Linked DNA regions of Homo sapiens: region 1 is linked to region 2. The links come from fine-mapping of genetic effects on gene expression. A gene starts in region 2. The other region holds a variant in brackets. All regions are shown on one strand. Distances are from middle to middle. Region 1 has its middle 27 kb from the start of POLR1D. Region 2 holds the start of POLR1D (RNA polymerase I and III subunit D).

Region 1 (16,535 bases), 28 kb after region 2:
ACAATGTAAATTCTAAGTAAATAGCTCTTATTCCGTATTGGTTTTTATTTGTGTTATTTTCATTGTATTGTTATTTTTTTGCTTCTTTAAAAAAAATTTTCAATCCATGTTTGGTTGAATCCACAGATACAGAGGGCCGATTGTACACTCTTGTGCTTACAAAAAAAGGGGCACTGCATTTTCAATACAAATGCCTGGAACCATACTTTCACATCTCATGTGAAATATCAAATGCCTAAATTCACAATTCTCTCTTAGCGTTTGCTTGACAGCAATTGGGCCATATGCTAAACTTCCATATTAATTCCTACACATCTGGTGTTTCTAGATAAGCCCCAAGTCAAAGTATTTACAAGGCTCTTTTTCCTATAATTTGCAAGGAATGAAATCACTTTTAATTTATATGAAAATCTTGATTATAACAATATAATTAGGGACTTTATTAAAATCAGTGCAAGAAAATAAGTTTCATGGAATATATACGAAATATTTCTGTCTTTCCACATTAATCCAAATATTACCATTAATCCAAATATTAATATTAATCCAAATATTCAGCCATTTCAAAAAATGGCTGAAAATATTTTTTATTTTGTTATGATGAAAGCATATTTGTCAAGATAGGAAGAAGAAATATATTTAAATATTTTTAGCTTATTTTATAACTTTTACATGTTTGGAAATATTGTATGGGGACTTCATGTGCCCCTCAGTGGGCCTATAAGAAAGGAGCAGTTACATCTATTGATGTGGAGCAAACAGGGAGATCGGGAAAGGCTTGGTGGAGAGGTAATGTGAGAGCTGAGTGTCTGGTGTAAAGGTTGTGAGTGGAGAGTGATTTGGACAGAGGGCATAACCTGGGCAAAGCTCCCCCGTGCATGTAACAGCAAATGTAGTGTTGGCAGTTGGTGGGAGTGTCTAAGCCATGTTATGTCTCTGGACTGTCAGAGCCAAGGCCCTAGATGTGGTTATCCCACAGAGCATCTGTGTGGCAAGGCCTTGCAGAGACAGGCCAGTGGCCCCACTGTGACATCTCACCCTCTCTGTAGTGGCACCCTCCACTCCAACACTAGGCGCTGTCATCTCAAAACACAATTAGCATCTCCACTAAGAAATGGAGTTCAGAGGATGTTAACAGGTATATATATACAATGAAGCAAAAGAATAATATTGGAAGCTAAACAAAGGCCATTTATCTCTGATCAGTAGCTCACTGAAGGGAAAAGTGTTTTCCAGATCTGAAACCTTGCTGAGATTTTCAGACAGCCCTAGTAGATCAAAGTCCTCAATCCTGACAGGAAATATTCCAGCTCTGCCTCATTCTGTGTCCTTGGTCAGTGTCTGTGGTTTCCCAGTCTGCCCTAATGTTTGATGACACTAAGGATACGTGTTGCTGTTGTGCCCCTGTTTGTTTGGCCACTACAGGGGATTGCTCCCTCAGGAACCTGTAGCTCTTCATTTTTTTCATTACATTTATTTACCCAGTGACATACTATATTTTTTTCTTTTATCTTCTTCTCACCTCCTTTGTCTTTCCTCTTCTTCCATCTCACCCATCATCATCTATTCTGTCTACAGATGCAGTATTTTTATTTTTAAAACCTTGCATTTGTATCATGTCCCACACATACCCAGAACCCATTTATTCCCCAGATCTTAACTTAACCATGTATGTGCCAGGCATAGAGAAAACTAGGTTGAAAAAGACAAGTTCCGAGACCTTTAGGAGTGTAAAAAAATAGCTATCATATTTCTTCTGCTTCCTATAAAATACAGAACACTTGGATCCAAATCAAATATTTTATTTTATCCTCATAACAACCCTGTGAAGTAATTATTATCATCATTGCAAAAAGCAATCTGCAGTATCTTTGTCTTATTTTTCCACCACTGCTTAAAATACCACTTTCATCTATCTCTTTAGTTCATGTTGGGCATGAAATCAACAAAGGATCTCATTAATTTTCCTTTCAAACTCATGTTCCTCCATCACCTTCCAGTCTTTTACCAGCATAAGTTCTTCTTAAAAATTCAGCACCTTTTCTCATGACTTTCTGTTTGTTATTTTATAAATGAATATTGGAGCTCCCTCCTCACATTCTCCTAGATAATCCAGTATTTGTTTTTAAAGTACATATATGGCTCTTTATTTTATATGCAGGCCCTAATAGCCTCTTCAGGGAAGAGCCTAATTCACCGTATAAATCACAGTACCTTGTATTTAGCAAGTGCGTAATGTAGATTAGCTGAATTTAACAAAATGTGCAGATTAATTTATTGTGCCTTTAGTTTATGTCTGTGAATAAGTCTTTTCATTTCCCAAATAACCTCAGTGTTCCTATTGAGTTTTACCTTGTCTTTAAAAACGCTTTTCACAATTTGAATTTTTGTACCTTTCTTTAGAGCTGATACATGACCCCAGACAATCTGATATTTTACTGAAATTAAATAAGGATATTTCTGAATTTTTGCCTGTGTCTGTAGTCAAAACACTAAGTCATAAAGAACCCAAACTTTGTCCTGTGGTTTCTACAGATCCCTATGACTACTAAACCACTAGTTACTACTGGCAGTGTGAACCTATAAGCAGTGGTTTGCAGATGTTCAGAGTGATCTGATCATCTGTCTATATTTTTTTAATCAATGACCTGACATCAAAACTTTACTGAAGATCGAGTAGATAGTTCCATTTTTCTCTCTAAGCTTTATCATTCCATTATGGGAAGAAATTTAGATTGCCATAGTAAGGTTTCTTTTACACGTATGTGGACGACTCCACAAGTATAAACATGTTTGCCTTCAGCACTGATAATGTGTTGGGCCTTTTAGATAACTTCCCAGTCAACAGCAGCAAATGATGCTGTACTCATTTCTGCCAATTTTCTAAGAAGTCTGTATTCTTGTCACCAAGTCATGCTTGTTTGAACACATCAAGAAGAGAGTAGTCTTATTAAGCAATGTATTGCCTTTTTTGAACCTGTTTTTCTGTCCATCATGTGACAGATACTGTACTATACAGCTAGCTGATCAAAGGTGACTTTTAAAGACTGAGAGAGACACAAATGAGGAAAGCTTCTAACGTTCAGCCTTGTGTTCCTAGCTTTCCTTCACCATCACAGGAAGAGGCCTATAGTTCCCTCTGGCTGACTCCATCATTTTTGAGCAGTTATTTGAGATTTAGCTTCTCTGATTTTATTCCTTTAAAATTCCTGTTTTCCTACTTTATTATTTAATTTTCCTCTCAATTTCTGGTGCTTTATTTCAGTTGCCTTCAATTTCTTGCTACCCCTTCTGTACACTGGAACAGTTAACCCTCAGTTGATTAAAGTGATTAAAAAGAAACAGACCCAGATAACTCAAAACTAATTTGTTTGACTTTGGATTTTAAGATGATTTTGTACCAGATTTGCATTCCTACTTGGGTTTTATTTAAGCTGCTATTATGATCAGTTGACATTCCTTAAGCATGTACCAGCTGGCTAATGGAGTGAACAGGCAGGCCTGAGGAAGCTGTGCTAGTATGGAAAATTGGCTGGAGATAATACACACATGGATCATTGAAAATTGATTGTGGTTTGTTCCTGTGCCCAGAAAACCGTCTGCTTAATGACTCAGCTCTCTTGGGTCTCCATGGAACTTAGTATTCTAATATAATTAATTAGTTTTACAAAGAAACCTTCAAGATATTGAAAAGAACCAAGTGTAAAAACTAGCATACCAAGAACTAAGTTTATGTCTGAATAATTTTTTAATTGTTCAAGTTCTGTATATACTTAGTTCTTATATATTCTCCTATTTGCTTTTCCTGTATTTTAATTACAGTTTATACTTCTTTCATCACCTCATTAAAAACTATCTTGTTTCATGCATGTTAATGTTTCATAATCTTTGATAATTTAAGTTATTTTGCCCCTGTGATCATGTAGAATAGAAACTGGATTTATAATTTCCTTACCCAATAATTCATTAATGAGATTTCTAGAGGAAACAACAGAGGCTACAGTAATGGGGAAGTTGCTGACTTTCTCCCCTTAATTTTGAAGGTAGTTATAGTGTTTTAAGGTTGGGATACTTGATTGCTAAGAATTGTTTTCTTCTTTGGAAGTAAAGCTCTGTAGAGGGAGCTTATGCAGGAGACTTTTGGGTGGGAAGTAGCGAATGCTCAACATTCTTAGGACAAAATAGTGATCAGTCCTCCTTCATTCCTTCCGCCTCTCCAGTATCAGCCTATCCCCCAGTTCTCTTTGAATGAATGCAGTAGTGGCACTCTGTTAGGCCTTTTTTTTCCCCATTTAGTTTATTTTTTGCCTTTTAATGATAAACAATTTCTCCAGGATTTGCTGCGCAGATATTTGTGGAGGAGATAGTCTAATAGAAGGATCAGATGATACCTAGCCTTAAAAACAGAGGTTGGGTTTTGTTTGCTTTGTTCCTCTTCCTCATTGCCCTTCTCCTTGATCGTTAGCAGTGTTACTTTGGGCAAGTTAGTCGATGTCTCTGAATATCACTTTCCACATCTGTATTGGTGGTAATAACTATGTTATCATGGTTATATAGAATAGTACTTGGTATACTTAAAGCTCTATATCTTCATTAGTTGTTGTTAAACCAATTGCAGATACCTAACTTGGGTAGATCCGAACCATGGGAATGGGTCACGCTGCACCACTTTGGCTGTGAACAGCAGCTAAGCCCCCTTTACCAGTGGGAACACGGTAGACAAGCTGACTGAGTGCCCTCCCACCCAGTATCTACTCCTCCTTTTATGGTCCTCCATCCTTGGTGAATTTGTTTCACCGCAGGCAGTCTTTCTCATACATATATCTTCTTTTCTCTTTGTACTCGTAAACCAGAAGGCATCCTTAAGCGTGCCAGGTAAAATTAATAACAGTGCTAGAGACAGTTTTAAGTAGAATCGAAACTAAAGAAGAGTCACTGTCAAACTTCAAGCTCTTGAAAGCACCTAGAATATGCCTTCAGGGTCTCTGCAAGAATCTTTACTGAGTATCTTCTGCAGATGTATAGCATTTCAGCTGGATTCTGACTCAAATAAGTTTCTATAGTCTGGTCCAGAAAGCTAGGCAAACATTTTAACATAGTTTTTATGGGAAAACACATTCTAGTTTATTTGTAACTGATACATATTTTGTTCATAATTGGGGAACTGCCCCAAAAAGTTGTTTTCCTGATTATTTTTAACCATTTCTTTTGACAGAAGGAGAGCACATAGGTGGATCTAGGTATGATTTATCTTTTTATTTTAAAACTACCACACTAATTTATGGGAAAGGAAGAGGCATATTTGGAATATTTATACCCTTTAATTTTTTTACTTAAATCTATAAGGGTGAAAAACAATCTGTTTTGGACCTTATTAGGATAAATTTTGCTTGAACTGTAAGAGACAAAGTCCCCAGATCATTTCAGCAGGCCATATCATTATTCTAAAGAGCTGGAAGAAGCAGCATATGTGGTCATCAGATGAACTTACCTCTTTGTGATTCCATAAGAGGTTGGGCTGCGAAACTTGTGATTGAGGGAGTCAACATGTCAGTAGATAGGCAAGCGCTTTAGTTTTTCATTGATCTGTAGCAGTGGGCCTTCCCAAGAAGGATCAGAAAATGTCAAGCTGCTGAGTTAACTGAAAAGACATCTTTTAAAGATCTCAATAAGAGTTTATTTTAAAATGAGTTACACAAAAATAAGCAGATGTATTTTTGAAGATTAAGAGGTGGTGAAATAGTTTGAAAGCATAGTATTAGGAATATGGAGGTAAATAACGAGAAACAGATGAAAAAAGTTGAAATTGTTTTCTTTGGTGGGTAGGGCAGGATAATTTAGAAGACTGTTGTATTTAAAATCTTTTAAATAATATTTGTCTTTTTAAACTATGTGCATGCTTTACTTTGATAAAAATCAACATGAAATAAAACATTCTTGTAAACAGAATGTTAATATCATTTGAAGATTATATAGTATATGGTAGCATTATAATAGTGTCATAACATTTTAATATAGACTCTATATAATTATCCAGCTTCAAAAATTCATGATTAGATTTATAGTTCTGTCTTTGGACTATATTTGTTTTGGACTATATTTGTTTATACCTCTCTTTTTCTTAACTTTATTTTTTCTTAACTTTGTTATTGATACATCATATTCAAGTCAGGGACGATCATCTTCCTATGTTGCTACCCATAGCACCTTGCACAGTATCTTACACATAGTAAAGTCTCAGAATATGGTTGATAAATATGTTTTCTGTTTTTTTAACCTCTTCAAAAATTACACAAATAATACATGTTCATTGTAGAAAAAATAGAAAATGCAGCAATGCAAACAGAAAAAATCACCTTAAAACTCATCTTACTGTTTTGATAACATCCCTCCAAATTTTTTTATTATTATTATTTTTATTTTTTTTAGAGACCAGGTCTTGCTATGTTGCCCAGGCTGGTCTCAAACTCCTGGCTTCAGGTGATCCTCTCACCTCACCCTCCCAAAGTACTGGGATTACAGGCATAAGCCACCACACCTAGCCGTCTCCAAATGTTTTTCTATGTAATATATATGTAAATAAATTTGAAATTAAGGTTATTCTACACATATTCTTTTGTACCAGCTTTATATACTGAATATGTTATGAGTGTCCTGTGCCAAAAATTCATTTGTCTTCATTTTTAATGACTGCCTAATCTTCCACATATGTGGATATGTTATGATTTATTTAACCAATCCTTTATCAGTAAATATTTAAGTTTTCTGTTTTTTCTTTAATTGTTAACAAGTAGTTTGAATATCCTTGTACATATACTTTTCCATACTTATTTGAATATTTTCATAGGACAAAGTAAAAAATTTTTAGATCAACTGGTATATACTATTCTTAAGGTTCTTTATTATGTTGCTGGATTGTCCTCCAGAAATGTAATATCAGCTTCAGTCCCCATTAGTAGAGAAGAAGTTATCCATTTCTCTACCCCCTCACTAACTAATGGGCAGAAACATTTATCCTTGTTGAGTTCACTGGTATTTCTTTGAATAACAGTGAATTTGAAAAAATATAGATATATACATATTTGGCTGTTCATGTCTTTTGGTTATTCAAATTAATAAGAAAAGATAATTCTTATATTAAGGATATATGATTTAACTGTCTCATATCAAAAATATTTTTCCAGTTTGTAATTTTTTTCTCTTCAATGTTGCTTCTCTTTATATTAATAGTTTCTTTTTAATTTATGTGTTCAAAATTGTCAACCATTTAAAAAAAAATTTGCCCCAGCAATCATGCTTCAAAAGTTAGTTCCTTTCCCAAGATCATGGACCTGGAATGAATTGATTTTCAGAACTTAGTAGGGTGACTGCCTCTCAAATCTTTTCCTTTTTCTTATCAGGAAAGCAATAGAAGAACTGCTTAAGGAGGCAAAACGTGGGAAAACTAGAGCTGAAACAATGGGACCCATGGGTTGGTAAGTTCTTTGAGTAATCTTCCTTAAAACTTAAGAAAAAATTCTTAGCTGGAGATATAAATATGTAAATCTTTAGCATATAGAGGAAATGGGAAACCATGGAAGCAGAGGAAATCTCTCAGAGACAAGTGTAGAGTAAGACACTGCTGAGAACTGAATGTTGAGAAACTCTAATAACATGAAGAAATGGGCAGCAGGCGCCTATGGAGGATACGCAGTATAGGTTCATTGTCCCTTTAGTTCACAAGTCTCCAAGAGGTATTTAGATACTACTGTGCGCAAAGTCACCTGTGCAAGAGTAATATTATGTTGGTGTTCATTGTTTAAGAATTTCTAGTTTACTTATAGTCCTTAGTAAATTAAAATTTATTTTAGGAAATTAATTTTAACTGTAAGCATTTTGATTATGTGACAATTCAGCCATGTAGAATTAAAGATTACCTTTGCAGATTATGTACAAAATAGAGCTTGTTAAAACTTAATAATATGGGCTGGGCACAATGGCTTATGCCTGTCATCCCAGCACTTTGGGAGGCCAAGGTGGGAGTATTGTTTGAGCCCAAGAGTTTGAGAATAGCTTGGGCAACATAGTGAGACTTCATCTCTACAAAACAAACCAAAAAAAACACCCTTCTAGGCACTACTTTAGTGATGCCATTTGCATTTGATGAATTTGTTGATTCTGGAATTTATATCTACAGTTAAAAACGTACTGCAATGGAATAAGGAGGGTCATTAAAAAGAGTAAAATGTAAAAATGTGAAAAGAGTAGAAGCTAAACTTCTGAACATAGCTCATTTTGTAATTTTGACATTTAGAACCATGCACATAGTTCACCTAAATTCCAAGACAAAAATTAAAATGGAAAAGATAATACCTAAAAATCAAGCAAAATAAAACATGGACCTGATAAACCATTGAGTGGATGGCTTAGCTACATGGAAAGAAACTATTTCAGGTGATCTGGAATTTGACTATATTTCCAAAAGATAAAAAATAACTACAAAGAAATTGTTTTCAGTCATCATATTGTTAGTAATAATATTGGTATTGCTATTCTGAAAATATTATATAGTAGGATAAAACAAGCAATACTTTCTATATATAAATACCAAGATTTAACATGAAAATTTTAAAGAGCTACAAATATAAAATCAAAGAAATAAAAACCTACCTATAATCCTAAATTTGAATTGGAAACATCAGTATGAGGTTGTGCTAGATTTTCTCTTAAAAAAGAGAGGGAGAGAGAAAAGCTTTTTCTAGTTCTCTTCACAGAAAAGGTCTAGAAACAATGACCACCCACCCAGTAGCAGTGAGCACCCCGGTGCCAAAACTGTGTTATGTAAATACCATTTCTCACTGAAAGGAGAGCGGAATCCTTAGAGTAAGAACTGATTGCAGACCTGAAGCAGTGCCCAGAGTTAGCCAAACTGCAAAATTAGAGGTCACAGTCCCCAAGACTATCCTTACTTCTTATTACCAACCACAAGTTCAGAGGGTTCCCCCAAACTACCACGCTTAGCTTCAATAATTCACTGGAAGAACTCACACAATTAACTGAAATCTGTTATACTTGTGGTTACAGCTTATTACAGGGACAAGATACAAACTAAAATCAGCCAAAATAAGACACAAAGATTAAAGCCACTGTTATCCTCTGCTCCGTGAAGAGGACATGCTACCCTCCCAGCATCAGTGTGTGATAATAAGCATGGAATATTGCCAAGCAAGGAAGCTCATCTGCGGCTCAGCATTCAAAGTTTTTATTGCGGTTTCATTAAATAGGTTTGAAGTCATGATATGCTACCCTCCCAGCATCAGTGTGTGATAATAGGCATGGAATATTGCCAAGCA[A/G]GGAAGCTCACCTGAGCCTCAGTGTTCAAAGTTTTTATTGAGGTTTCATTACATAGGTTTGATTGATGGATGGATGGATGGATGGATGGATTACATGACTGATCTCAGTTTCCAGGTTGACTGATACCACGTAACCCAAAGCTCTCACCCTAAGTCACATGTTAGTCTCTCTGGCATGGCCAGCTCCCACTCTAAGACTCTTAGGTGTGACCAGCTCCACCCTAAACAAAGACATTTCTATGACATTACTTTCTGGAAGCTAAGGCAAAGGCCAGCCCTCTCTTTGGGCCAAACCAAACTCTTGACTACATGGGCAGGAAATGTATAAGAGAAGCTGGAAAATCTTGTCACACCAGAAAGCAAAGAAACTGTCAAAGACCAATGTACTCATTTCAGAAAGACTCAGGACCCACTTGAAAGGTCTCCCACTAGTCAAAGATGATATAATTTGATTTAAAAAACAAATAAATGATTAAAACACCTAAAATATGTTAAAATCTGTAAGGTCATAATGATAATCATAATAACAAACCTGGTAGTCCCTTTTATAGGATGCTAGAGCACCAAATCACTATTCACAAAACTGATAAATAGGAAGAAGTAAGCATTTACCCTGTTCCCTGTACAAATTATACTTCAAAGTCACCAATTAATTGATGAAAGAAAACTTTACAGAAGAATTGTAACTAATATATTAGAAGGATTATAGAATAATATTATCATCATTTGAGTTTCAACACATTCATTAACCCTTATACCACAGAAAGATGCAAGAAGAGCAAACCACCACCTCTGGGGCATCCTTGTCAAAAAATTGAACCTGAATCTGATCAAGTCTCTAGTTAGAACTACTAGTTTGCAAGAAATACAGAGGGCAGAGAAACATGTTAAATGACACCATAAGGCTGCAATCACAAAAATCCAAAATGTGAGAAATGCTACAGGACAAAGAACCCAGTTTCTTTAACAAATGAATTGCAAGGAGAAAAGAAAGAAGAGTATGCTGTGAATTAATAGATTTGAGGAACATCAAATAAAATGGGTACCTTGTTTGTGTCTTTATCCAAACTAACTGTAAAAAGTTATTCAACAATTGAGGGTATTTGATGATATTAAGGAACTGATGTTGATTTTTTAGGTGTGATAGTATTGCTGTTATTTTAATTTTTAAAAGCCATTATCTTTTAGAAATGTATTCTGATATATTTATGGATGAAATTATATAATGAAATAATCCAATGTGAGTCAACCTGTATCTATCAAGTGTAATCATCTTAGCTTCAGTAAAATACCTAGTAAATAATAGATATATTATTTTAAAGTGAATACTGAAAAAAATGCTCAGCTTTAATTTTGAATATTTATATTAATAGATGTAACCCACATAAACAAAAGCTCTTTGGGGTGTCCACAATCATTTTTAGGAGTGTGAGTGTAAAGTACCCTAAGACCACAAAGTTTGAGAACCACTATTATAAGACAATTGAAAAAAATAAGAATGCCAGCAGGAATTATTGTCTTATAGACTCATGGGAAAAGTGGGAGGATGATAGTGAAAATCTGGTGAGATAATGTGTATGAAAACACCCAGCATGGTTCCTGGCATGTAGCAGTTAGTTAGTAAATATTAGTTAAATCTGCTCTTCTTTCCAGCCCTCCTCTGTGCTTTACAGAAATAAGGTGCCTCTACTATTGTGAGTCAGATTAGTATAAACTATTTAGGCACAGGGTGCTTTGGTTTCGGATATAAGGCTGTACCTTCATCAGGCTGTCAGTAATCATTGGTCCAATCTAATACCTATTAGAAAGACTCAGCATAGAGTTAAAATCATGCAATTTACAAGTGAGTAAGAAAATATCAATTATAGTTCTTGCTCTGTAAGGAGCGTTCAAGGGGATTGGTTGTTTCTTGCCAGCTCTCCAGATAGACATCATTTATCCTGACAACTTTAGTACCACCTACTGGCTTCATAAAACTTTCTGATAGTAAAAGAACTAGTGTATCAGTGCTAGTTCTGCTCTCCCTGGGGAAAGTTACCATGTGCACCAGACTGTCTTGAGATTTGTGTGGGCATTGATGTACTCTTTAGGAATAACACTGGTTAGGTTGGTAGTTACACAGAGTTACTGGGGACCCAGGCTCCTTCCAGTTTTCCAAATCTCCCAATCATAGGGTATGACTCTTTTCTACATAGTCTAATATAGTAACAGACACTGAGTCCACATTTCAGTTAGCAGAAAGGAAGGCACACCCCTTTCCTTTAAGAAAACTTGCCATGACTGGGCGCTGTGGCTCACGCCTATAATCCCAGCACTTTGGGAGGCCGAGGTGGGCGGATCACTTGAGTCAGGAGTTTGAGACCAGCCTCGCCAACATGGTGAAATCCCATCTCTACTAAAAATACAAAAATTAGCCAGATGTGCTGGCACACGTCTGTAATCCCAGCTACTCAGGCTGAGGCAGGAGAATCACTTGAACCTGCAAGAGGGAGGTTACAGTAAGCCGAGATCACACCACTGCACTCCAGCCTGGGGGACACAGTGAGACTCCATCTCAAAAAAAAAAAAAGAAAACTTGCCAGAAGTTGCATTTACCATTTCTTTTTTTTTTTTTTTTTTTTTTTTTTGAGACGGAGTCTTGCTCTGTCGCTGGATCTCAGCTCACTGCAACCTCTGCCTCCCTGGTGCAAGCAATTCTCTGCCTCAGCCTCCCGAGTAGCTGGGATTACAGGTGCCCACCACCATGCCTGACTAATGTTTGTATTTTTTTTTAGTAGAGATCGGGTTTCACCATCTTGGCCAGGCTGGTCTGGAACTCCTGACCTAGTGATCGCCTGCCTTGGCCTCCCAAAGTGCTAGGATTGCAGGCGTGAGCCACCGTGCCCGGCCTGTATTTACCATTTCTTCATGTACCCCATTGGCCAGAATTTAGTCTGATGTCTACATCTAGCTGCAAGGACAGAAATTTCATCTTTTTTTTCATAGGCAGTTGCGTGGCAGATAAGTATCTGGGGTTCTTTGACTACAGAAAAAAGAAAGAGCAGATATTGAGGGACAACTAGCAGCTTCTTCCCAGGTATAGGGAAAAAGCATGTTGAAAAGGGAGTAAATAAAAGATGGCAGGCAAAGTAAGATACTCCAGATTGTAAGAGGTGGATCCCGTGGGAGACTAGGATGTGAAATTACACTTTCCCATGAGTCTGAAAGACACGAATTCCTGCTGGGATTGTTACTTGGTTATCTCAATTGTCTTGGAACAGTGGTTCTCAAACATCTTAGGATACTTGCACTCTTACGTTATTGAGAACCCCAAAGAGCTTTTGTTTATGTGGGTTATATCTATCAATACCAATGTTTAAAATTAAAGCTGGGCAATTTTTAAGTATTTATTCATTTTTAAATAATAAATCAAATACATTAAGATAAATAACATTTATAAGAAAAATAACTATATTTGCAAAACAAAATGCATTGAGTACAGTAATTTTGGAAACCTCTTTGATGTCTGGCTTATAGAAGACACCTGGGTTCTTATATCTGCTTCTGAATTCGATCTATTGTAATGTGTTATTTTGGCTGAAGTATGTGAAGAAAATACTACCTTACAAAGATATGTATTTTCAAAAGGAAATACATATCAGAAAGTTTAACAAAGCCAGTAGGTGATACTAAAGTTGTCAGGATAAATGATGTCTATCTGGAGAGCTGGCAAGAAACAACCAAGCCCCTTGAACGCTCCTTACAGAGCAAGAACTATGATTGATATTTTCTTACTCACTTGTAAATTGCGTGATTTTAGCTCTATTTCAATAACTTTTTCAGAAGACTGTAGATATTCTTCTTTGATACTACATCAGAACTTTGCAAGTAACTTCAAGTAGTAATTTCGTAATATTCTTTTTAATAATGTGTACTTTTCCTATCCTATTACAGTAAAAGCCCTTTATATAATATCCTTGTACCTTGGCTGGATCTTCTACTTATTCTTGATTTTGTAACATCATCATTGGTCATCTGGAAAATATTGGTTCACTGAGTTATGAAGCTTCCAAATGTTGACACGTGTCATTATATAATATTTTTAAAATCACATTTGTAAATATCATCACCAATCTCATCAGATCAGTCTTTTAAGTGTCAAGGGAACCTGTCAAGTTCACAGTTTGCCAAAATTCTAATTTTCTTTCATCTGGAAGCTCCAGTTATATATTGGCAATGAATACTGGGAGTTGTTTTCCTAGAAGTGACAGGCCCACCCACATCTGAATAACCAGCTAGTTCACTTTGCCATTCAGTCACACAAGTACTTTTCCTTGAGGCCTCCATCATAATCTCAAGTACCAGAGTGCTTTGTATGTATGTCCCGTTTATACACATACATTATTAAAAAGACTGATGCTCAAGGGTAAAAATTTAACAAAATTAATAATTTGCACTGCTTCATCAAGGACATTCTCAAGTAAAACTGGCCATTTTTAACTGGAAGTGCATGGTGGTAAAGAGTACAATGACCACTGGTACAGTTTTTCATCACTGCCTTGTTTCTTGCCACTGTTTTACTTGTTGCTTTTGCACCATCAGTGCAAATGTCAACCTTCTGGAGAAAAGCAAATTATATCAAAACTATGGAAATAGCTTTGACTTTGTAGATTGCCTCATGAGTCTGGAGGACTCTCAGGGTTCACGGGTCACATGGTGAGAACTGCTGCTTTAGATAGGTGCCAGCAAGCAAATACAGCAAAACAAGGAAAATAACTAGGAGGAGAAAAAAGGAGACAAAGGGTCATTTGTTGAAGATAGGATGTCTACCCATAGTGGTTTAGCACAAGATAAACATTCAAAATCAATTCCTTATACAGTCAATAGCCCACTAGAAAATATAATGAGAAAAAAGGACATTGTTTGATTATCTATGATTGTGTGGTATAGTATATTTACATGTAATACACAAACATATAATTCTTGGCTGAACCATGTGAAAATTAATTGTAGGCATCTTGATACTTCAGCCCTAAATTCTTCAGCATGCAGATCTCAAAGACATTCTCATGCATAACCACATTGTAATTACCATATCAATGAAATTAATGTATAATTTCATATCATCATCTAACATCCCAAAAATGTCTTTTATAGTGGTTGCCTTTTGTTTGGGATGCAGATTCAGGATCCAGGCAAAAATGTTCCACATACTGGATTTGCCTTATTATGTTTTCTTGATTAGATTCAGGTCAAACTTGTTTGACAGGAAGGAATATTACACAGGTGATGTTTTTATACGTCTTAATTACAACAGATCAGGAGGACTTAATGTCAGGTTGCCCTTGATAAAGCTGGTGACTACCAGATCTCTCCATTATAAAGGTGCAATTTTTCAGCTAAGATATTTTTGGGAGGAATGAGATGAGAATATTGCATGCTCAATATAATAATAGTATGTAAATTTATAGTAATTAGTATGAGATTCGTGTAAGACTAAAGACATTAGTGAGAGAATAGAGAATCAAGAATAGAGACTGGGGGAAGAAAGAGGCAGGAGGAAGGAAGGGAGTGGAGAAGGAAAGAAAACAAAAAAAAGAATGGAGACCGACATATGTGTATGAACTAACTGTGTGGAAAAAGGTCATTGTTCATACTAGTGGAGAAAGGGTGGATTATTTAGTAAGTGATGCTGATACAGTTGACTATTCATCTGTAATACTGAAAATTAAAAACTAAACATACAAAATATGAATCTTATAGGAGAAAATACAGGATAATATTTTTATAATATTGGCAAGGATAAGGTAGAAACCTCCCTCAGCCAGGCACAAAACCTAGAAGCTATGAATGAGACAATGGCAGATTCAACCATGTCATAATAATAGTAAACTTCTACATAGAAAAAGATACCATACAAAAAGTTAACTTGTGAAAAGACAAGTGGTAGACTGGTTGAAATTATTTGCCATATATAACAGACAAAGGACTAATACTCTAAGTATTGAAAAAGCTTCTACAAATCAGTTTATAAAAAGAAAACCATATCTGTGTGTGTCTGTGTCTGTGTATGTGTATGTGTATATATCAAAACTACAAATGGCCAGTAAGTAAACATACTAACACATTTATTGAGTACTTAGCAGAGCTAGGCTCTGCTATTTTGACACTCATGTATCTGTAAACAGAATGACAAAGATTCCTGCTCTCTTGGAATTTATAATCTAATGGGGGTGGGAGTGCATGCATAGGTATTTATATTCCTCTTAAATAGCACTTAAATTTCACCATTAGATTGGCAGAAATGAAAGAGGCAGTAATCCAGTGGAGATGAAGGGATGTGGAAAGGGGTGCAGTGTTGTGCTTCAGGCAGTGGTGTGGTTTGCTCTGTGCAGGGCCATGGGCAAAATGTTGAGTCACAGTTCTCTGTGCCCCTTTACCCAGGATCTCTGCTCCCAGTAATCCCTCTTTCATAGAACTTAATAAATGTGTGCAGACCTAAGTACAGAATTATTGTAGCACATTTTGATAGTAAAAAAAGGGAAGCAGTCCAAATGTCCATAGATAGGAAAATGCTTAAATAAACTGTGGTACATCCTACTGTTGAATATTTTACAGTCACTAAAAAGAATTGGTCAGCACTATATGAATCCTTGTGAGAAAATATCTACTATGTATGTGAAAACCTGAGTTGTGGATCAATGCATGTAATCCTCTATTGGCCAGGTCAGGGAAGGCCATGGGACCCCGTAACGCATAAAGGTCTGTGAGAAGTTAGGCCTCCTAACAGTGAGCACTAAGGGGAGCATGAGAAGCAGGGAATGCTATCCATTGTAACCCTCTACCAGGGGCTCTGTTACAGTAATATATAACAAATATGTCTTCTATTTATCACTTTTTAACAGAGTTTTTTTAATTAGAAAATAATCTGGAGAGGTTTTTAAAAATACAGATCTCCAGCCAGGCGCTGTGGCTCACACCAGTAATCCTAGCACTTTGGGAGGCCGAGGCAGGTGGATTGCCCGAGCTCAGGAGTTCAAGAGCAGCCTGGGCAACACAGTGAAACCCCATCTCTACTAAAATACAAAAAATCAGCTGGGCATGGTGGCGCCTGTGTTCCCAGTTACTCAGGAGGCTGAGGCAGGAGAATCACTTGAACCTAGGAGGCGGAGGTTGCAGTGAGCCAAGATTGCGCCACTGCACTCCAGCCTGGGCGACGGAGCA
Region 2 (16,535 bases):
CTGCTGCCTTGGCCACCCAAAGTGAGCCACCATGCCTGGTCGAATTATTTTTAATATTTTATTTAACCCAATATATGCAGAATATTATCTTGAATCGCCTCTAGATTGTAAACTCCATGAGGATACCACAGCATCCTTGGCTCAGTGTCAGAGCACTCAGTAGGAGCTAAACAAACGTTTACAAATTGACTGAAGGGTATGGGGGTAGGGGGTTGAGGGACATTTCCCTGCATTGAGGACCAGCCATTTAATTGGTGATACCAAAGCAATGTGGAGACAGAAGCAGAGTTAATCTGAACAGGGGCGTTATCTGGCAGGTACAACACAAAAGACAAGTCCAAGGGAGGCAAAGGTGCCAGTGGGAAGCATATTCCAGGTGTTTAACCATGGGCTTCCAAACTGGATAGAGACGCTCTGCAAGGCCAAAAGGTGTCCCTGCAGCAGGGAGGGGAGGGTGAGGTGGAACAGAAGGACTGGCACACTGTTGCTGTGAGGGGGAGGGGGCACTCTAATAGAAAGTGTGGGTATTGAGAGAGCTGCAAAGATAGGAGAAGAGACGGAGGTCCAACTACAGGATATGTAAGTTTTAAGATTTCTAACATGGAAAATTTAGGGAAACGACAAGATGCCAAATGAATGTTAAGACACAGTGGAAGCAGGCCGGGCGTGGTGGCTCATGCCTGTAATCCCAGCACTCTGGGAGGCCAAGACACGCAAATCACCTGAGGTAAGGAGTTCGACACCAGGCCAACATGATGAAACACCATCTCTACTAAAAATACAAAAATTATCTGGGTGTGGTGGCGGGTGCTTGTAATCCCAGCTATTGGGGAGGCTGAGGCAGGAGAATCACTTGAACCTGGGAGGTAGAGGTTGCCATGAGCCGAGACTGTGCCACTGCACTCCAGCCTGGGTGACAGAGCGAGACGCAGTCTCAAAAAAATAAAAATAAAAAAATAAAAATACAGGCGAAGCAAAGGTCACCCGGCTGCAAATGATTAACTACTCGAATGAATGTCTTTTAAGATTTTAAATACTACAAGGGCAGAGACAATCTTTTGTGTGCCACCCAAGCCCAGCACTTCTTAGGTACTTGTTAAATACAACTAAACTGAAGTCAAAGTTCAAATGTTAAAAATCAGATAGAAGTAAAACTGCCTTTGCAAAAATTATATCAGTGAAAACATAGCAGTGGGGAGATTTTAGCCAATTCTCTTCTTGCCTTTAGCTTTCAAGCTGCCCTTAATTATTCCTGGGCTTAAACCAAGCTAATTTTGGGAGAAATTTAGTTTATAGTTTAAATGGTAACAGCTCTTCCCCAAAATTCAACCACCTTTGTAAAGCTAATGAGGGACCACGAAGCTAGGCAACAGAGGAACCTGAATTCAGCTAAGGTATAGACATAAACAATTGCCAGCCACTATTCCAGAGGTCACAGGATATGCAACTTGCCCAATTACTCCCTCAGATAACATCACTACTGGAGAAACTAAGATTGGCCTTTTGAGATATCTGTTCAGGTTTTTTGGTTGGACCCACTGACCACTCCTGTGGCCTCACCCAGAAGCCACTCAGAGCATAGGAGTACCATTTCCCACACCCCCATGATTGTGCCCCCAACCAATCAGCAGCAAGCACCCATTGCCTAGCCACTCCCACCCCTTCCCCCAGACTACCTTTGAAAATAGCCCCCAAATGCTCAGGTAGGCTGATCTGGGTAATAATAAAATTCCAGTCTTCTGTTCCGCAAGATCTATGTGTGTAAAAACTCTTTCTCTATTGCAATTCCCTGCCTTGATAAATTGGCTCTATCTGGGCAGTAGGCAGGAAGAACCCATTGGGCAGCTAAAGAAGAAAAAGTCACAAAACTGAAATAAGATTTAAGTAAAGGTCTCCAATTTATGGGTTCAGTAATTATTTATTGGTCTAAATGATAAGGGTTCTCATAAACGATTAAGTCTTTAAGATTAGTAGCCGAAATCCCAACGGGGAAGGGGGTGGCAGGTATAAATATTTCCCAGACTTACCTTACTTTTATCTATAAAACAAAGTGATAGACAACAGAGCCTTGGAAACTGAGAGGAAATAAAAACACACTCAGGAGTGTTTTTTTCTATTCTCTTATTCAACACAACAGTCATCAACACAGAATACTTCTATGTCCAAATGTGGGCTCCCCCCGACACCCCAGTACACAAAGCAGTGGACACCAGCTGAGTGTCCTCTAGTTCAATTCAATTCTGACCTGGAGATAACCCCAGATCCCAAAGCTGAGGGCTCAGTCTCCAAGACCGCTCCCCTCTCCACCAGACACCAGTCGCAAGTGCAGGCCTCAGAAAATTCTAACTGACTGGCCTCAATTTGGGGTTCCCATAACCCCTCTTTGGGTTCAATTAACTTGCTAGAGCAGCTCACAGAACTCAGGGATACACTTACTTAGGTTTACCAGTTTATTATAAAAGATATTACAAAGGATATAGATGAAGAGATGCACAGGGCGAGGTACGGGGAAGGGGTGCGGAGCGTCCATGCCCTCTCTGGGGCGTGTTACCCTCCAGGAACCTCCATGTGATCAGCTGTCCAGAAGCTCTCTGAACCCTGTCCTCTTGGGCCTTTTATGAAGACTTCATAACATAGGTATGGTTGGTTAAATCATTGGCCATTGGTGATCAGCTTACCCTTCAGCTCCTCTGCCCTCCCTGGAGGGTGGTGGTGGGGCTGACAGTCCTAACCCTCTAATCCAGCCTTTCCAGTGCCCAGGGCCCATCCTGAAGCTACCTAGGGGCTGCCAGCTGTTCAGTCAACTCATCAGCATACAAAGACACTTAGCGCTTTGCAGATTCCAAGGAATTTGAGAGTTGTATGCCAGGAAACAGGGATAAAGACCATATATATATTTCACAACATCACAGAAGCTTAATCATAAGCCATCAATGTTGCAGTTCTTCTATATTCCTATAAGAACAGGGAACAGTTCAAGCTTCCTCACTGGATCAATTCTCTTTTGCTTTCCCTCTGACCAATGACTGTTTCAAAGATTTGGAGAAGTCTGTGAGCCAAGCCAGATCAAAGCCAATTTGGATCCAATTTGTTCATTAATGCATGCTGTCAACAAAAAGAGTCAAACTCTGCAACATATTTGAAGAGATTTATCGTGAGCCAAATCTGAGTGACCATGGCCCATGACACAGCCTTCAGGAGGTCCTAAGAACATGTGCCCAAGATGGTAGGGGTGCAGCTTGGTTTTATACATTTTAGGGAGGCATGAGACATCAATCAAAAAATTTTAAGAAATACATTGGTTTGGTCCAGAAAGGTGGGACAATTGCAGGGGGTCGGGGGTGGGGTGGGGGGTTGGGGGGGGTAGCAGGGAGTGCCATTCCAAGCCATAGGTAAATTTAAACATTTTCTGGTTGACAGTCGGTTGAGTTTGTCTAAAGCCCTGGGATCAACAGAAAGGAATGTCTGGGTTAAGACAAAGGATTGTGGAGACCCAAGTTCTTACTTTCAGAGGAAGCCTTCAGGTAGTAGGCTTCGATAGGTGGTAGTAAAACGTTTCTTATCGGACTTAAAGTCTATGTTAATGTTAATGTCAGAGAGGTATAACAAGTCATGTCCGACCTCCACTTCCCACTCATGGCCTGAAACTGTCTCTCAGGTTAAATTTTAAAAGACCCCTGGATGAGGAGGAAGTCCATTCAGATGGCTGGGGAGAGGGGGAAGCTTAGAATTTTATTTTTGGTTTACAATACATTAATATTTGTTTAAGTACTTAGGGATTCTGCAGTTAGCAAAATAGATAGGATCCCAGCTCTAGGAAGCACACATTCTAAAGGATAGAACCTACAACACCTGCTTCTTTAAAAGCATACTAACTAGAGGACAATTTATTATTGTAATGTCATGAGCACTTGCTTGTTAAAAAATTCCTTTTTTGAGATGGAGTCTAGCTCTATCACCCAGGCTGGAGCGCAGTGGCGCAATCTCAGCTCACTGAAACCTCTAGCTCCCGGGTTCAAGCGATTTCTCCTGCCTCAGCCTCCTGAGTAGCTGGGATTACAGGCACCTGCCACCACGCCCAGCTAATTTTCGTATTTTTAGTAGAGACAGGGTTTCACTGTGTTGGCCAGGCTGGTCTTGAACTCCTGACCTCGTGATCGCCCGCCTCAGCCTCCCAAAGTGCTAGAATTATAAGCGTGAGTCACTGCACCTGGCCAAAAAATTCCTCTTAATAACTTCTTAGAAGGCTAATACACAAAATAGCCACCTTTTCTGAATCCAACCAAACAAAATAACTTATTAACCACAGATTTTCCTACTGCTTTGTATTTTCTGAGGAAAAGAAACAGGTGCCAGGAAAGCTAAAAGGGATGTCTTTTGTAAGACTCTCAGGCCCTCCTACAGGGTCAATTTAGGTAGGCCTGCCCCAGTCTTCTAATTCTACATGCAAGATACATATGTATTACTTTTTCAAACAACACTGCTTCCTAAATAGAGGAGAACCTATGAAATGAGACCTGTGATTCTTTTTTAAAAACCTAGATGCATTTGGATAGAGGAAGGTGGGCCTGTGAACTCTAGCCCTGTAAGCAGGAAGGAAAGTTAAATAGTTCCTCATAATACAATTTAAAGATATCGGGTGGCAATTGTAAAGGAAAGAAAGAAGAGGGGAAGAAGGCCAAAGAGCCAACCAGATTACAAGAGCCTGGAGTCCTCCTTTCTTTGATGGTGGCCAAAATATATTTTAAGGATAGAAATGCCTAATATTCAATGTCAACACTTCTGATATCGCTCCACTGTGAACCCCTTCACCCTCCCCTTCCTCTAAATCTCTCATAAAGCTTACCATACTCATAAAGCCTTTCTGTGAACTCTTTTTCTTTTCTATTCTTTCCTAGCTCCTGTGAGACACAACTATCCAACAACTGCATCATGGATCTCTCAACCATCCATTTAGCACCTCCTTAGATTAGTCCAAAACTGAACTTATCTTCCCTTCTACACCTCTACCATCAATTGTTTTTAACTGCTCCTTCTCATATCCTCCAACATTCCACTAGCTCATTAATGTCATCATCTAAAGGAACAACTAATATTTACTGAGCACTTGGAATGTGCTAGGTACCCTGCCAAAGGCATTACATGCATAATTCCTCAAACCCTACTCAACAGGTACGACAATCATTTCCCAAATGTTAGGAAATCAAAGTTCTGTCAGGATAGTTATTCTAAGGGTAAGTAATAGAATTAGAATTTGACCCGTTTTAATTTCACAGCCAGCTTACCCAGTACATGTCAATCAATGCCTGAAGTCAAACAACCCAGGATTCATCCTTCCCTCCTTAAGCCTACCCAGTCACTTACCTAGTCCAGCCTCCTAGTCATACCTCTTAAACACCACGTCATTTCTCCTTCCACTGCCAGCACACTAGCATTTACTAAGTCCTTACTATCTGGCAATCACTATTCTAAGTAATAGACATGTTTTTTCAAGTTCTATCCCCCAAACTCTGAGATGACAAACCTAAGGAACAAAGAGGTTTCAGTGTATGACAGAGCCTGATTCCACCCCAGGTAATCTGAATAGAGAATCCCTGAGCACTTAACCCCTCCATTAGAACAGCCTCCAACTTAGTCTCCATATCGCCCATCTGGAAGCCCACCATCCTCCAGACGCTGCAGATATCTTTCTGGAATGCTTACCCGTTATCATGACATTCTCCTGCTTAAAATTAGCAGCTCAGTATCACTGACTGGATAAAGTCCAAATTTCTTAATCTGGTATAAAAAATCCTTCATTTTTCTGTTCAAGTCAATTCAGTAAATATTTTAGTGCCCAATGTAAGCAAGAAAAGGTGCCAAGTGTTCTGAAATGAATAATACATGTCCCTGACTACTACCTCCACCTCGGACACTGGGTCCTTCGGCCAGACAAGCCCATATGCAAAGCTCGTAATACAACAGCCCAAAGACACATACATTTATTTTTAAGTGGCCTGCGTGCTACGTGCCTACAATGTACGAAATCCCAAACCAATCTGAAGACTAAGTGCCTACGTAACACCTATTCTTACAGGTCTCCAGGCAGAAATGCTCCCTAAGTTCAAATTACTTCAGGGTAACTAGTGGGATAAAGGCATGGATCAGTTTCCAAATGAGAAAACTGGGCAAGAAGCAACCCCCGCCATCAATGGCTGGCATGCAGTAGGTACTTTATCAGTGGCTAAATGAATAAATAATGAAAAAATTTCAAAGTTGATGAGAGAAACAAGATATATGGAGAATGTAACACACAAGTGGGCCGAATTAAAAGTGATGTTATTCTACTTTGGTTCTCATTTGGCCTACTTTTACCCCATGGGAAAACTCACATGTGGGACTCGGACAAGCTAAAAAGCCAAAACTTTGTTATTCATGGCTCAACAAAGCTTTGACAAGCCAAAAAGGATACCAGATTCCCGCTTCCTTCTTTACCTGCCAAAGTCCATTTTCTAAAGAGGTGTGGGGGTGGGAATCAAATCTAGCAAAGTAAATAAAATTGATCTACTGAGATCCAACTTCATTAGTGCTGCATCGAAGTACATGCAAAAGAAATATCAAAACCTGTCCTGGGAAGAAGGCCAATTTACAAGTAAGTACTATTGCCGCAAGAATGTGAAATTCTTAAAGGCAGTTCCAATAAGCTGGAGCTCACAAGTGTTCCTCCTCCTGCACCGCCACCGCTTTTCACTCAACTTTGTTTCTGATTTCTGTGATTTTAAAAAGCATAATATACACAGCAAAGCCCATGCATAAGTGTACTTTAGCTCCTGGTACAAACGAACGTCTGGATTCATAAACTTAACGTAAACTGAAATACTAAAAGAAACACTACATGAGTCAAAAGTCCTTGTTTAAAACGTGGCATACAGCTTTGAAAAGCGAGTGATGTATTTCCTGAATGATGCTTTGTGTGCAACTGCTTCCAAATCAAGATTCATATTTTTAAATTACCCCCTGGAAGATGTCAAATCTCTCTCCCACCCTCTCCAGCCTAAAGAGAAAGGTGAGAATTCACAGGCAACAGGCTGGGGCGGAGGGAATGATCTCTCCCCATCCCTTTCCAGAGAACAAAACCCGATAAAGGCAGCTAGTGCCACTCTCATTGCCGACACCACACACACACAGAGGAAATTTAAACACTCACCCCACCTCTCCCTTCCCTTAAGAAGCAAACGACGCCAAGCTCTGCACCACGGTGGCCGGAACCAGCAAACGCTAACAGCCGGAGGCCGCCCGCCTCCCGGGCGCCTGCAGGCGGCGGGCACCGGGCGCCGACTCTCCCTCCTGGACCAGACCCACACCCGAGTCCACGCCAGCCCCGCAGCCCGGGCGAGCGAAGACAGCCGCGAAGGACCAAGGCTCCGGGGCGAGCTGTGGCGCCGCTCCGGCCGCCTCCCGGGGCGCGGCGCTGACCCACACCCAGCTGACGCCCGCACCTGAGGCGGCTGCCCGCAGCCAGCGAGAGGGCGCGCAGCGAGGCGGGCAGGGCAAAGTTACTCACTGGGAAAGCGCGGCTGCCCGGGCCGCGCACGGGCTCCTGGCGCCGCTGCTCGGCACCAGCTCCCGCTCTCCGCGGCCCGCTGAGGGAGCGGAGAGCCTGCCCGGCTCCGCTCCGCCAGGAATCGCCGCCGCCGCCGCCGCCGCCGCGGATTTCCTGGCAAAAAGCAAACTCCGGCCAAGACTTCACTTCTCAACCGCCCCTGCTGCCTTCCCGGGGGCAGCGCCAAGGCCGAGCGGCCCAACCCGCACCCGGGCCAATCGGAGGTAGCACAGGGCGGGAGGTGGGCGGACCAGAGGGCGGCTCCACCTATCCGAGAGCTCGGGAGGCGGGCCAGAAGGGACCCGTCACTCCCGGGTTAGAGTGAGACCACTCCGCCCTCGCCGCCCGCCTCCCCCACTCGCCCCGGGCTGTCCCCGCCGCCCGCCTGATTCCCCTGCGGAAGCCCCGCTGGCTAGGTGTCTGCGCGCACCCCCGGCCGCCGCCAAGAGTGGCACAGCTGGGGAAGGAGTGAACATCCAGAGGAATCGCGGGGCGGGGTGGGGGGAGGCCAGGAGAACAGGTGGCGCAGGGAAGCAGAAACGTAGTTGCGCTGGACAGCTGGAGTCGGGCAGGGTCGGGGCCAGCGGCGAGGGGACAAGAAGGGCCGATTCGAGAGGAAGCGCACCTGAGGGAGCACAGCGAAGGCCGGGACGCAGGGAGCTGGATGGAGAGCGAGCCTGGGCGGCGAAAGGTTGCCGAGGCGGGGGCTGGGCGCCTGGGAACAAAGGTGAGGGCGGGTTCCGCAGGTGAGGAGGTTTGAGGAGCCACTGGGGAGAAAGGGAAAAGGAAGTCTACAGCCGGAGAGGACGCGCTCTGGGGGTAGAAGGAATCCTAGGACGGAAAGGATAAGGTGGGAAACAGTTTTCTCCCAAACTCTCACTCCCCCAAAAGAGACATTTCTTTCTTGCCCTATTTTGACCCAGTTGAAAATGCAACTGCAAGCTCCCCGGTGAAACAAATACCGCCTTCAACCTTCGTATTCTGTGGTGACTCATCTCGCACGTGACCCCCCTCCCTCTTCAAGGTGTGTTGACCGACTACAGTTTAAGCCTGTCGTCCCACAAAAGGCCCGGGAGGGCCGGGGTCCCAGGAAGGGCCATCCTGGGTCAACACCGCCCCAGTTGGGAAGTCGGGCCGCTTTCGGACTTGCCACTGGGAAGGGAAGTGATTTGGGGGCGGCAGGTAAGGCCGCGCCCCTTCGCCATCACCTGGGGAAAGGTACCAGAGTTGAGCCGGGGCGCCCGCAGGCCTGTCTGGGCCTCGGGGTAAGGCGGCGCTGGCCCCGCCCCCTGCCCCTCCCGCCGCGAGTGGCCTCGCGTGGTCGCCCAGGTGAGCCGCGGGGCCGCGAGCCACCGCTCACCCCGCGTCGGGGCGGGGGCTGGGGGTGGAGCCTCATGCCCCGCCCCGCGGCTGGGCCCTGCCGCGCCGCTGCGGCTCCTCCTCCCTCCTTCCGTCCTCCGCGCCTTCCGTCGGTCGGTCCTTGCTTCCTGCTTCGCCTCCGCGCCTCGCGCTATGGGACAGAGCCCCCGATCCGCCAGCACCACCTGAGGATCCAGAAACCGCCCCAGCGATGGAAGAGGATCAGGAGCTGGAGAGGTAACGGCCGAGGAGGAGGCGGGCGGAGCGGGCCGCGCCCAAGGGGAGCGGGTGGCCGAGGGGCACGCTGCCTGGCCTGGCAGCCGGGGCCTGACTCGGGGCGCAGAGAAGAAGCATGGAGAGAGAAGTGGGGAGGAGACATGAATGTGTTTCAGTTGAGAGGCTGAGAGGTACACTAGCTATCAAGGAGGGAAGACAAGTTGGGAGACCAGAGTTAAGTATCCGAACTGCCCACCCCCGTTACAACAGCAGTGTGTAAAAATCACGCCCCGGGCCTCTGCTCCTGAGGACGGTACTCGTGCCTCTGTCCCTGTAACTACGGCTCACCTTCTTTCTATGTGCAGACTGCTCCTAAAGCCACTCTGTGCGCTGAGCTCTTTTTCTCCCTGCTGCTTGACTCCTGAACCTTCCATTCTCCTAGTTTCCTTCTCTTGCAAAATGGAAGCCGTAGTTGGGCCTGCACATTGATCATCTGTATCCTCTATTTTTATACTAGAGCAATCGGGATTTCTATGCCTTTCAACCCTCTCTTCATCCTCTAGCAGGACCAGTCCTATTCTAATCCTATCCCTTGCTTGTGACTCTACCAAAAAATATTTTTGCAAACACTTAAGTTTGTGTTTTTCTAAGAAAACTCCCCTTGTGGCCAGTGTGGATGGTCAAATGGAGCAGGGAAAAACTGGAGGCAATAAATTAAATATTTATTGATAGAGTTTGTGGAGGCAGGAAAATGAGAGGCGAATAATTCTGTGTAGCTGGAGTAGATTAATAATAATGTGTTGCAATGTGATATAGTAAATGAGAAAAAGCTAGTTACAAAACAATATTCAGTATGATCTCATTTTTATAAAAAATATGTGTGTAGAAAAATATCTGGATTGAAGACCTCAATGGCTGAAGGCGAGAGGAAGACAGCCCTGGAAATGGTCCAGGCAGCTGGAACAGATAGACACTGTGTGACATTTGTATTGCACGAGGAAGACCATACCCTAGGAAATTCTCTACGTTACATGATCATGAAGAACCCGGAAGTGGAATTTTGTGGTTACACTACGACCCATCCTTCAGAGAGCAAAATTAATTTACGCATTCAGACTCGAGGTACCCTTCCAGCTGTTGAGCCATTTCAGAGAGGCCTGAATGAGCTCATGAATGTCTGCCAACATGTGCTTGACAAGTTTGAGGCCAGCATAAAGGACTATAAGGATCAAAAAGCAAGCAGAAATGAATCCACATTCTAGTCCTTTATGCAGTATACAAGGAGAACTGTCCTGTAGGATATTCTCTTCCTGATGGTGCAGAACCCAGAATTAGAAGTTTGTGGTTACAGCATACTCTGTCCTTCAGAAAGGCGTGATTCTAGCTGTTGACCCCTTGCAGCTGTTGGAATCTCTGCAAGAACCTCTGTATTCTTCTAATAAATTCCCTCTTTTATTTAAACTAGTTTGACTGGTTTCTGTTCCATGCAACCAAATGGTCCTTGAGGATGACTTTTTTTCTAATTAAGCCAGCATTGAAAATGAGGAAACTGAGAATATCAGAGGCCTAGACAAGAACTGTGATCATGGGAATTAAAAGAAGTATATATCCATGTCTGTAGTTGGAGTGGTGGGGGTAAGGGAAGAGACAAAAACCATGACCCCAGTTAGATTGTTGTTTAAAAACAGAAGGAAAGAAGATTGGGGTGGGGACTTGGCTTCTTGCTAAACTTTTTGGCTTTTAAAGAATTGCATCATTTGCTGTGATTGGTAGACTTGGCAAGGGTGGGAATAATTTGGAAGAAGTGTGAGAATTCTGGTTTTACATGAGAGTTTTAGGGAGTAAGGCTCCATCTTTGAGGCATTTACAGGAAAGATACCAGTTTACTGCTTGAATTTTGGGATATACTTAGTCATGATCTAAGTAAGGTAAGATGTTTTGATTATATTACAGAAGGAGAAAATTGGGATGACTAGAAAACATTTTCAGTCCTTAAGTAGGTATAGCCTAGGGTAATGTAGAAGAAGCCCTATTTGAGAGAAGGTAAAGCCAAGGAGAAGGAAAATTCCATATAGGGGAAATGACTGTTTTGGAAAACACATATCCCACCCGCCAGTGCTCTGTGCTTTGGGCCCTTGTTTATCTATCCCCTCTTCCTGGGCCAGTCTTACTCCTGCCGTACTCTTAAGTCAAAGCTTATGTGTCAGGCCTCTCAGCCTAGTTTGGGTACTTCTTTGTGCTTTCATTACACCCTGTGTTTCCTGGCCTTGGCATTTACTATGCTATTGGTAGTGCTTATCTTGTTTACCCACTAAACCAACTTGGAGGTCAACATGATTCTGGTACCTGGAACACCTGACAGGTAGTGGACACTTAGTAAATACTCTATGAATTCATGTAAGTAGTTATGGCATGCAGCTTTTCAGTCACTCAAACCTGACCTCTTACACTAGCGTGCCATAGAGCCTACATTTCCTACACTCAGCCAAATTCTTTAAAGAGATATCCATATTTTTGAGCACTAGTATGTTCCAGGCCTTGGGGATAGATATATAGCTATAGTGGATGAGACAGAGTAAGTCCTGTTCTCATAAAGCATGTGTTATAAGAGCCCCTTAAAAAAAAATTGTGAGGCTCGGCATGGTGGCTCACACCTGGGAAGCCAAGGTGGGAGGATCACTTGAGCCCAGGAGTTTGAGACAAGCCTGGGCAACATGGGGAGTCCCTGTCTCTACAAAAAAATAAAAAAGGTAGCCAGGCATGGTGACACATGCCTGTAGTCCCAGCTGCTTGGGAAGCTGAGGCGAGAGGATATCTTGAACCTAGGAGGTTGAGGCTGCAATGAGCCATGATCACACCATTGCACTCCAGCCTGGGTGACAGAGGGAGACCTTGTCTCAAAAAAATATATAAAATTAAAAACTTGTAATTCTGTAAAAGCAGCAAATGTAGGGTCAAGATAGAAAACATAAGAAAGGAATCTACTTTAGGCACGGAAGTTAGGAAAGGTGTTCTAGAGATTACAGGAAGGGAGAGAGCTGGCTGTGCAAAGAGGAGAGAAAATGCATTCTGGGGGTATAGCATGTGCAAAGGTCCTAAAGCAGAAAACTGGTGGCATGAGGAACTGAAGATATTGAACAAAGATTTGCATGTTTTTGTAGCACAGTAGACAAGGAGAAGGGCCTGTCCTCTGGAGTCCATGGGAGGAAGAGTTGGGGTAGTAGGGATTTTGGATTTTAGGTTCAGTGGGAATGACGTCTTCTTTACTTTGATTACAGAGTGGGGGGAGATGAATTATAGGGAGGCTGGAGTAGAAGCAGAGAGAGACACTATAAAGAGTTGAAGTGGCCTGGAAGGGTAGAAGCTAGTGATGGAGAAGAGAAGGTAGGTTTGAGGTATATTTTAGAATTGAATTGGCACAGAATTGGTACACTTCAGGAACTGTGGAAGATGAAGAATCAAAGATGACTACTGCCTAGCTTTGGGGCCAATTACTGAAATTGGGAAGCTTAAAATGGAAAATAGATTGGGAGGTGGAAAAGATGATAGGAGTCAAAAGTTTCATTTGTGAACATTGTAAGCAGTGGCTATGTGAGTTGGAGATCGTGGAAGAGATCTAAGCTGGAGACAAATTTTATGAGTCCTTGCCATAAAGATGACATAAATTGATTAAAAAAAAAAAAATAGAGGGTGACAAAGAAGTGGGCCCAGAACAAAGCCCTAGGCAACTTCAGTATTTAAAGTTTGGGTCAAAGAAGAGTTAAAGATAAGAGTATTTGTAAGTTTGGGTCAATGTAATGGTAGGAAAGTGCAAAAATAGGGTGTGGAAGCCAAGGGTTTCAAATAGGGAATAGAAAAATGTCACCTGGAGTTAACGTGGAGGTCACTAGGCAGTAACAGCATTAGTTTACTGCCTAAGAAGAGTAAACATTACCACTCATTATACAGAGGAATGGCTTAGTTTGGTTTTCCAATAAAAGAATCACATGAAGACATTGGAAGAGGTGAGTTTAGGCGGGAGCAGGGATGTCATAGGGCAAGGATACAGCATATTCTCTTATGGTGACAGTAAGAAATTCTGGAAAGTCAATGTTTGTTTAAGGGCATTAGCCTTTGAAGATAAAAGGAAGCTCAAAAAGGATGTGGAAAAGGATTAAAAACTTTTTTCCTCTCCCAAAACTTTGCCTGTGGGGATAGTAAACAGAATTACTTACCTGGAGTTTAATTCCTCTAAACCAAGGCCTGTCAGGAGATGAAAACAAAGTTTAATTAGTGGACATCAAGGTACAGACTGATGATAGTAGATGAAGTACAGTGGGAAACACAGCCAGAGGCGACCGCTCACCACATCACAACTTCATTGCACCTAAAAGAATTTAGACTGATCACGTAGAATGCAGTCTTGAATGTCTTTAGGGTGACCATAAACTCACGGGTTCATACAAAACACCTGCAGAAGGCAGTTGGGTGGAGGGAAGAAACTGAGAAGGGGGCAGGCAGGTTAACCAAGAGTCTTGTATATGTGAAAGGAATCTGCATAAAGTCTGTAGGGACCTGAGGGAAAGCTGAGTTGGTCCAAAAAGGACTAGGGAGATGAATGTGAATCTTATACATCCTGTGAAAAGTTAATCCGCATCTGATTTGCACTCCAATAGCATTTCATTCTAAATAAACTCATGCCAGTGATTCAAGATCAGAAATTCTCTTCAGCTGTAAAGTACTGTGACTTTTAAAAAGCTGATTATTAAATATATACCAAAGGCTTTTAACATGTAGTAATTCTGAGTACTTGCTGGTACTTTCTATTTTCAAAGTACTTTACAAGCTAATTATTTACAAATTGCATATAGCTGTAACATCTAAGTACTCTAATTAGTTGGCATAATGCACAGGTTCACACAGAATCTCGAGAGATGGAAAGGTGTCTACAAAGTGGTCTCTTCAGTACTGACCCAAAGAGTGTCTTGCATCTCAAGAGATAGGAAAGCATATCAAGTTCCGTGGCCTACCACTCCCCACTCTTCTTTTAGTTTCCCTTAAACACGTTATTCAGATTTTAGATGGTCTCCAGATCACTAGACAAAAGTCTTCTTTTTGGTTAGCGTAATTTAGAGTCATTCTTTGTAACAACCTTTAAACTGGTCTCTTAGGAAGTTTACCCAAATCTACCCATCTGCTTTCAAGTACTTATTAAGACCCCCAAACCCAGCCTTTTCTTGCTCAAATTCTTAATGTTGCTATTTTCTTTTCCTGCTTTATAAACTATCCTGGTACAGTTACTGCGTGGGTCTGGTTTTTTTTTTTTTCTCATGATGAAATTCTTCTCAAACTTGGATTATTAGATCTCTAATTATTTAACTATACAGTAAGTATGTACCTAATAGTAGCACAGTCCTGAGAAATGGTGGAAATAAGAGACTATGAGTCTGTCCTGAAAACCCTTCTGTGGTTTTGGAGAAGGCAGACAAGAGCTGTACACATGAAAAAGAAAACCAATTGTATTGACAATGAAGTGCCCGAATGTGCAGTGTGGAGTATTATGTGATGAATTCAGAATGGGATGGGTGAAAGGCACTGCTGAAACATCTATTCTTTCATGAGCACTCATTCTGTTGGCCAGTGAAGATGGCAAATAAGAATTGGCGGCTTATGATTAATAACAGGAATAAATGGTTTCCTTTTTTCCAGTGTAAGAGAGCTGTTAAAGATTCTTGAGCTAGAACTGCCGTAAAGTTTTAGTTTTTTTTTTTTTTTTTTTTTTTGTCCCATGCCTGTGTGCAGAATGGGTGAGTGGAAGGAAACTGGAAGACAGCAGTGAACTGGGGACATTTGTAATAGTCCAGGTATAATGTAAGGAGGGCATACTTGTAAGAGAGGAGATAAAAGGATGGATACAAAAAAAAAATGCTTAAACAAAAAAAGTAACTTGGAGACAGATTCTATAGAGGGGTAATAGAAGAGTTGTAGATGACCCCAAAGGCCCCATATCCAGGTTCATTTACCCCTTTGTTTATCCTACCATTCCCTCACAACCAAAAACCAGTAAGGCAGGATTTATCATTTCTTTTCTCCAGCCTGTCCTTACTAACGGGAGTTAGTGGGTGCAACCACCCTTACCTCCTTCCCCAACCCATATCAGAAGAATTCATGTATTTTACAAGGATATGAATCCAGGGCTACAGATGTGAAAATTGAGAGTTAAGAAGAGGCGATCAGGGCAGTGAACAGCCTGGCTCTTACGGTCTGCACTCACCAAGCTGCTTGCTTTACAGGGAATGTTTTCATTAATTGGCTCTGTAAATATTGAGCACATACTATACGGAGGCACAGTTTAGGGGCCAGGATACGGCAGTGAACAAGTTGGCCCACATGCAGTTTATTTTCTGATGGCAGAGTTAGACAATAAAGAAACATGCAAACATTTAATTTCAGGTAGTAAACTAATGATGACAAGGAGAAAACACTGAATAGTTAAGGAAGGCCTTTCTGAGGAGGTAACATTTGAGCAGAGAAATACAAGAAGAGAGAGACCAAGGATAAAAGAGAATGAGCCCAGAATTTTTTTAAAAACCTGAGCTTAGATTATTCAGCAATGAAAGAAAAATTATGAACCTTTCTAGAGGAATAAATTGTATATTTCAGCCTTGTGTTTGTGACTTTTATTAGTGCCTAAATTTATATCATCTGTTTTTAATCTGTATATGTATTTACCTAACAATTATAGTAAAGAATATTGGACTACTCTGTGGGAAGGAGGATATGTAGGATATTGGAGTTGTTTTCGATTGGCTGATACATGTATGTATATTGGAGGGGCTTATTTTAATTGAACTTTTTTATTCTTCTTTTGAGACAGTCGCACTGTTACCAAGGCTGGAATGCAGTGGTGCAATCTCAACTCGCTGCAGCCTTGACCTCCCAGGCTCAAGCAGTCCTCCTACCTCAGCCTCCTGAGCAGCTGAGACTACAGGCATGTGCCACCATGCCTGGCTAATTGTTTGTTTTTGTTTTTTTGTGTGTGGAGACAGTCTCACTATGTTGCCCAGGCTGGTCTTGAACTCCTGGACTCAAGTGATCCTCCCATCTCAGCCTCCCAAAGTGCTAGGATTATAGGCGTGAGCCACTGTGCCCAGCCAAAATAGACCTTCCTTAGGAACAGAAATTGATATGTGTGGAATCTTGGGTATCTTTTCAGTAAGCATAGGCATAGCAAACTTAGGCAGTATAACATTGGAATTTAGAGCTGTTGGACTCACAATGCCTGGGTTTTGATCCTGGCTCTAGACGTTAGCCATGTGACCTTGGACATACTGTTTGATCTCTTTGTGCCTGAGTTTCTTCTTCTGCAAATTGGGATAACAATAATACCATATAGGGA

What was found. PIP is the estimated chance that this variant, and not a neighbour inherited with it, causes the effect. A credible set is the group of variants that fine-mapping cannot tell apart.
Region 1: its variant is the best candidate, but not a certain one, in a credible set for the expression of POLR1D in whole blood (TOPMed, PIP 0.55).

What each region holds. Positions count from the first base shown.
Region 1 is chr13:27,640,979-27,657,513 of GRCh38, forward strand. It overlaps a transcript of POLR1D not described here. Among named protein-coding and RNA genes, the nearest start is that of POLR1D, 27 kb to the left of the region's middle. The variant A/G (reference allele first, on the strand shown) is at 9,333.
Region 2 is chr13:27,612,832-27,629,366 of GRCh38, forward strand. It overlaps POLR1D (RNA polymerase I and III subunit D), which reads left to right and starts at 9,061. Exons shown (of 2, transcript NM_015972.4): 1 at 9,061-9,178; 2 at 10,044-10,618. The coding sequence starts at 9,153. The coding sequence ends at 10,419. LNX2 (ligand of numb-protein X 2) reads right to left here and starts at 7,698. Exons shown (of 10, transcript NM_153371.4): 1 at 7,544-7,698. RefSeq lists silencers at 7,248-8,137, 8,758-9,317 and an enhancer at 7,726-8,454.